2 linked regions of the Homo sapiens genome follow. The protein of the gene in region 1 interacts with the protein of each later gene in a pairwise test. Each region holds a gene or a part of one and is shown in the gene's direction. Other genes may lie near its edges.

Evidence for each region. The genes of interacting proteins can lie anywhere in the genome.
Region 2: the proteins of TMEM98 (region 1) and HTR6 interact in a two-hybrid assay, tested with the Homo sapiens proteins (one large-scale study listed by BioGRID and IntAct).

The regions. Positions count from the first base shown.
Region 1 is NC_000017.11:32,934,653-32,938,152, forward strand, and holds part of TMEM98 (transmembrane protein 98), read left to right. Parts: intron 1-1,679; coding exon 1,680-1,795; intron 1,796-3,500. UniProt on the Homo sapiens protein: Functions as a negative regulator of MYRF in oligodendrocyte differentiation and myelination. Interacts with the C-terminal of MYRF inhibiting MYRF self-cleavage and N-fragment nuclear translocation.
Region 2 is NC_000001.11:19,671,375-19,674,874, forward strand, and holds part of HTR6 (5-hydroxytryptamine receptor 6), read left to right. Parts: intron 1-3,500. UniProt on the Homo sapiens protein: G-protein coupled receptor for 5-hydroxytryptamine (serotonin), a biogenic hormone that functions as a neurotransmitter, a hormone and a mitogen. Also has a high affinity for tricyclic psychotropic drugs.

The DNA.
Region 1 (3,500 bases):
GGTTTCCCTGCTTCCCCCTGCACACTCATTTTCACTAACAGAGAGTTCAGGCCTGTATGGTGAGTTTCTTTCTGTATTTGGATTTCTACTGTGACTAGAAAGTCATCACTAGCCTTCTTTGGCTGTGACCGTAGTCAGCCAAATGGGACAATCAGTGTTAAAAAACCAAAGCAGGCATACTTCAATCTGAAGGCAGAGGATTTTTTCTTTGAAAGCCTGGAATCTTTGAAAAATTGCATCCAATTTGCATTTTGGGTAATTTTATGGTTTTAGCATTTGTTTTCAATTCTTGCCTGTTAATATCCTACCTAATAGAATAATAACTATACTGAAATATTTGGCCAGTTGCAAATATCAGGGTTTTTTTTTTTACATCAGTAACCTGGGTAATCACACATTTATCTCTTTGACTAGTAATTATTCAAGATTTCAAAAGAGACAACTTTGTCTTTTCTTTAGTGTCATTCAGTAGAAGACACTATTAATAAAACATTCTTTACCCCACCTCTTCTTTGGCTGTCTCTCTCAGGGGATGGATAAATGCCTAGTAGGAAGTTATTATCTCAGAGTCCAGGCTTAGTTAATTCTGAGAGGCTCTTTGGATATACAAATATGGCTATAGATATAAATATGGTTATTGATAGAGCTAGGTAGGCATAATGGCTAGAAGATAATACTATACTACATTTCCCTTCTCCTGGCCAAGATGTGTCCTGGGCCTGGGTTTTGTCTCCTGTCCTCATCTATTAGGAGGATAAATGGCACCTGTGGTGTGAGATGAATCAGCTGGAGGGAGTCATATTGAATTGGAATCTGTGTCTACCCGGCGAACCTCTGATCAAAGGAGAGGGCTTCTAAGTCTCCTCTTGGGATCTTAAGACTCTTTTGCTAGGTCACCTGCCCTTGAGTCTCTGTGGTGGGAGCTGGGAGAGGGGTCTGGGCTAACTCCCAGGTGGACCTTTGGGCTTCTTTCTGCCCTCTACTGTCCAGCTCCAAGTATAGGTCAGGTAGGGGTGCTTCCTTGCCATGGATAGAGGCGCACCCATGTTGGTTGGTTCTAGCATGGGGTGGCCTGGAAAGGGGAAGCAAGCTCTGGGGTGGCCAGCTCTGTGGGTGGGACCACGAAGAAGGCTGTAGTCAGTCTTGCCTTTTCCCTGCTTTTCCTAAGGTCCTTTCATCATCAGCTTGATAAACATGCTAATATATTACCTGAGACAATTGTTGAAATAAGTGCTGTTATTGGAGCATGTGCTTAAAGGGAACAATTGCCCTTTGTTCAGCCCCATTCCTGAGGGTGCCTTGTTGGAGATATTTATTCTTGTGGAAGACTAAACCATGAGATGAAGGAATAGAAAAAGAAAGTAGGTTTTTCCCCTAAGTGAGAAGGTGAAATTGGAGCACATGATTTTTCTTAAGACAGATTATTTCAGCTTAGGCTTCCCAGAGCCCACACCCTGCCCTTGATCTGCGGCTCCCACCCCAGGTCCTCTCCCAGCCATGCCCTTGGCTTTTGCCACTTCCCACCCGTTTCCTCTCATCTCTGTACTTTTCACATCTGGCCATTAGGTTGGGGGCCAGCTGCGATGGAACTCACGGCAGGGCTGATTTGTCTCGTGGGGGTGGCGAGGCCCTGAGTGGAGCCAGGTCAGCCCTCATCTCTCTCCTCCCTGCCGCATTAGATTTGTCACACTCTGACAGAGAAGCTTGTTGCCATGACAATGGGCTCTGGGGCCAAGATGAAGACTTCAGCCAGTGTCAGCGACATCATTGTGGTGGCCAAGCGGATCAGCCCCAGGTGAGCAATTGGCGGCTTCGAGGTCCCCACACTCCCTGAGGGAAGAGAGGGGCTGGAAGCTGGGGTAGCCGCAGAGCTGGGCTCTTCTATAAAATGGTGCACAGGCAACTTCAGCTATTTGTTTCCCACACATTTACAGAGTGACCAGGAGGGTTTAGATACCGAGACTTCTCAGCTAAGGTGGGCTTCCACCATCCCCACCTGCAGCATGACCCATCTGAGAGGGCTTTGGGGAAGCGCCAGCAGGTGCCTAGTCCTGACCCTGTCCTAGACCCTGCCCTGCAGAGCCCGTGGCCGCCCCTCTTACCCAGCCACATACCAGCTCCCCTTGACACGCCTTCCTCCCAGGCCAACATGTCACACAGATGCCCACACCCCTGTCTCTGCCTGAATCTGTGTTGGAGACTAGCTTGGGGGACCCACTCTGGCTGTGCCCACTGCTCCATCCCTGGCCCAGGCCAGCAGCCTCCAGCACTGGGTGGGAGCTGAAGCCATATGGCATTCAACCTCCCAGATTCCAGGCTAACTGCGAAATCCCGTGTGGGAGGCAACCAGCAGGATTGCAGTCAACAGCTACACCCCCTCATTTGGGCTTGATATCGTGAGGAAAAATAAAGCCCTTTTCTTAGAGCCAAGGGCTGTACTAAGTTTGTGCTGCCACCTGGTGGCTGGTATGCCGACGTGCCTGAGCAGAGGGTCGGGGCCAGGATGTTTTCCACGTCAGCCACCTGGCCCCTCCGCCCACCCGGGAGGGCACCTCTGTATGCCTGCTGAAACAATGGCACTGCTGTGAGTTCCAGGGGCCCACACGTTCCTTGTTGCCATGGCCCCAGGTAAATCACGAGGAACCAGCCCTTTCTCTGCCTCAAGATTAACCAAATAAAAACGACCAGTTTCCTGAGTTGCCACGTGAGTTCCTCTGAGGGAATACACGACCTGGTCAGCTTGAACTCAGTCCAGGCAGTTCAGTGAGTTGAGAGAGTGGGAGGGAGATAATCCAGGGAGGGACTCAGCTGAGAACAGTTCCCTGCCTTCTCTGGAATTGCCTCCAGTGGGCTGTAGCCACATGGTCAGCCCCTGGCTTTATAAGAACCCACATCCCAGGCTCTGGGTGGGCACTGGGCATTCCTTCCCCATTATTTTATTTATTTATTTATTTTTGAGATGGAATCTTGCTCTGTCACCCAGGCTGGAGTGCGGTGGTGCGATCTTGGCTCACTACAACCCCCACCTACCGGGTTCAAGCGATTCTCCTGCCTCAGCCCCCTGAGTAGCTGTGATTACAGGTGCCTGCTACCATGTCTGGCTAATTTTTGTATTTTTAGTAGAGATGGGGTTTCACCATGTTGGCCAGGCTGATCTCAAACTCCTGACCTCAGGTGATCCTCCTGCCTCAGCCTCCCACAGTGCTGGGATTATAGGTGTGAGCCACCACACCCGGCCTCCTTCCCCATTAGTTTTAAAGATTCTGCACTATGGTATTCACTAGACCCTTTGTCATGCTTTTTGTGCCTTCTAAGAGCCACTTAGAGGCCAGGCAGATTCCTGTGATACAGGTTACAAGGCAGCACTTTCAGGAGGTTGAGGTTTCTGTGTGAGCCTGGGTGAGTAGGATCAGCACGGGTCCTAAGATGAGGGTGTGGCATTGTCCAGAGAGTGGACCTGTTCTGGTGCTCACAGGCCCATCCTAAAGAGTACCTTGGAC
Region 2 (3,500 bases), on another chromosome or scaffold:
TGACGTGTGCAAATTCTGCCTCTGTTCCTGCTTTCAAATCCACTCGGCTCCTTAAGTAAGCCTCCTGCAGGCCGTTTTCCTGATTGCCTGGTGAACGGCCTGCACTTTGGGAAAATGCATCTGAGAAATTGCATTGGCCCTCCTGGGTCACCGCCTCTTTCTTCCCACCAGAGCTGGCCTGGAGGTGGAGGCCCCCTCAATGTTTGGACCTAAAGGAAGTGATGAGAATGAATCAGATGTGGGTGTCTTGGACCCCTTCCCTTTTCCTGTGCCCAGCCCCACTTAGCCTTGGCTTCCTGCCCCATTCCACTCTCTAGCTTCCCTGCAGAGGGAAAGGAGCTGGGCATAGGTCTCGAGGCCCCAGTTCCTCTGGGGTCAGAACATGGGAGCTGGTCAGCCTTGAGCATTTCATCCCCTCTCCATATGTCTATTTATGGAAATGGGCTTTTAAAAGGCCACTGGTTGGCTTAGTGATTTCCACTAGGTCTTCCCACCACCTCAGGGCTGGGAGGAAGGGGTCCTGCTTAGCACTGTGGCTGGGAGTGTGGGCTGGGGATGGAGGAAGAGCCGTGGGGCAGAGTGAGGAGCTACCAGGGCAGGGGAGTGTGTGTGTTGGGAGCAGGGTGGAAGGTGGGGGCCTGGATGTGGGTGGCACTGAGCCATCCTTGGGAGATTGTGGAGGGTCCAGGGTGTTAGGGGCAGTTTCAGAGATGCAGCATGGGCCACTGGCTTGAGGGAGAGCCCAGCAGGAGAGGCCCAGCCTCCTCCTCTTCCTGGCAGGATTTCTGGGTCTCTGTGGTCCATAACCTCATCCCATCTCTACACCTCACCTTCCTCCCCACTCCCATCCATCCTTCTCTCCTTCAGTTCCCATGTCTTCCTTCTGTGTGCCCCGTCTTCCCCTCCCCCTTCTCCTGTCCCATCAATTTCTCCCGCTTTTCCTCCTCCCCCTCCTTTTTTCACCCTCTCTCACCCAACTAAGCGTCATTCTGTCTTAGTGATCCATCTTCCCTTCCATCTCTGTCTTTCCTCCTCCTCAGAGGAGGAGGCTGTGATCACAGAAATATCTGTGAGGGGGAGGAGGGGGCCGAGCCAGGGAGAGGCTGGCAGAGTGACACTGCCGAGCATGGCAGGCTTGGCTGCTGCTCAGAGCCAGGCAGCCTGGTGCAGCCAGGGCTGGAGCAGGAGCTTGGGGGTCTGGCTGGTTAGGGTTCAAGCCCTGCCTCTTTTGCCTCATAGCTGGACGATCTTGGGCAAGGCATTTTACCTCCTTATGCTCCAGGGGTCATGACATCTATCACACAAGTCTGTTTGAAGAGTCAATTAGATAATATACATAAAATACCAGGCACATAGTAAGTGCTCAACAAATTTCAGCTAGGCAGTGACTCACAACTGTAATCCCAACACTTTGGGAGGCCAAGGCAGGAGGATTCTTTGAAGCTAGGAGTTCGAGACCAGCCTGGGCAACATAGCGAGCTCCTGTCTCTAAAAATATATATAAAAAATTAGCCAGGCCTGGTGGCACATACCTTTAGTTACAGCTATTCGAAGAGGCTGAGGTGAGAGGATTGCTTGAGCCCAGGCAACAGAGCAAGACCCCATCTTTAAAACAACAACAATAGTTGTTCGTGCCTCTCTTTTCCTGTTGTTGGTAAAATATGTTTCTGGGGAGCTCACCACCTTGACCCTTTCTAGGGAAAAACATCACTGCTGTCACCAGCACCATCACCATCATTATCAAACAGCTGAGCCAGAGACTAATAATAATGACAACAATAGCTAACACTTCTATGGGACTTCCTATGTGCTGGCACTGTTCTAACTTTCAGTGTATTATTTTATTTTATCCTTATTATAATCCTATGAGGTAGATGCTATTTTAGTGCCATTTTACAGAACAGAAAGTGGAAGCATAGATGAAGTAACTTGCTTAAGGTCACTCCACTAGTTTGTAACAGAGCCAGGATTTGAAACCAGGCAGTCTGGCTCCAGAGTCTGTCTTGTAACTCTCACACTATGATCAGATGATGGTAACAAAATTTAATTGTGGGCTGGGCGTGGTGGCTCACGCCTGTAATCCCAGCACTTTGGGAGGCCGAGGTGGGTGGATCACCTGAGATCGGGAGTTTGAGACTAACATGGAGAAACCCCATCTCTACTAAGGTACAAAATTAGATGGGCATGGTGGTGCACACCTGTAGTCCCAGCTACTTGGGAGGCTGAGGCAGGAGAATCGCTTGAACCCGGGAGGCAGAGGTTGTGGTGAGCCGAGATCGCGCCATTGCACTCCAGCCTGGGCAACAAGAGCGAGACTTCGTCTCAAAAAATAAATAAATAAATAAATAAAATTAATTGCACAAAGGAATACATAAATACACTTTAAAAATTCAACAATAGGGATGAAGGAAAAGACCTCCAAATTCCAGCTAATCACCTTTCACTCCCAGGGACATGCATCAATTTAGGATATGTCCTTCTAGGTCTTTTTTTTTTTTTTTTTTTCTGTTAGGACAGAGTGTCACTCTGTCACCCAGGCTGGAGTGCAGTGGTACAACCACGGCTCACTGCAGCCTTGACCTCTTCTGACTCAGGTGATCCTCCCACGTCAACCTCCGGAGTAGCTGGGGCTACAGACGCACATCACCATGCCTGGCTAATTTTTGTATTTTTTGTAGAGATGGGGTTTCACCATGCTGCCCAGGCTGGTCTTGAACTCCTGGACTCAAGCAATCCACCTGCCTCGGCCTCCCAAAGTGCTGGGATTACAGGTGTGAGCCACTGCACCTAGCCCTTCCGGGTCATTTTCTATGTGCTTATGTATTTATACAGGTACTTAAAGAAACTTGGTGCTTTGTGTTGGATATTGTTTTTTAAACAAATAGGATCATGCTGTATCTATTACTTTGCAACCTGCTATTATAATTTAATAATCATGGAGATCTTTTCATTTGATTGATTCATTCTTTTAAAACATCTGTGTAGTATTCTGTAGTGGGAATTCACCGTGGTTTATTTAAGCCACTCTTCTCTTTTTTTTTTTTTTTTTTGAGACAAACTCTCACTCTGTCACCCAGGCTGGAGTGTGGTGGTGTGATCTCGGCTCACTGCAGCCTCCACCTCCTGGGTTCAAGTGATTCTCCTGCCTCAGCCTCCTGAGTAGTGGGACTACAGGCATGCACCACCACACCTGGCTAATTTTTTTATTTTTAGCAGAGACAGGGTTTTGCCATGTTGGCCAGGCTGGTCTCGAACTACTGACCTCAAGTGATCTGCCCACCTTGGCCTCCCAAAGGGCTGAGATTATAGGCGTGAGCCACTGTGCCCAGCCTAAACCACTCTTCTTTTGATGGACATTAAGGCTGTTTCCAATTTTTTCCTATCACAAGTAGTGCTGTGGGACACATTCTTGGATATGTGAAGCGTGCAGACATGAATGTAGGTGTTGGCTGGAAGCTGTATGTGTGATTGTTGGCTGGAAGGGCCCTGGATTGTCCTTC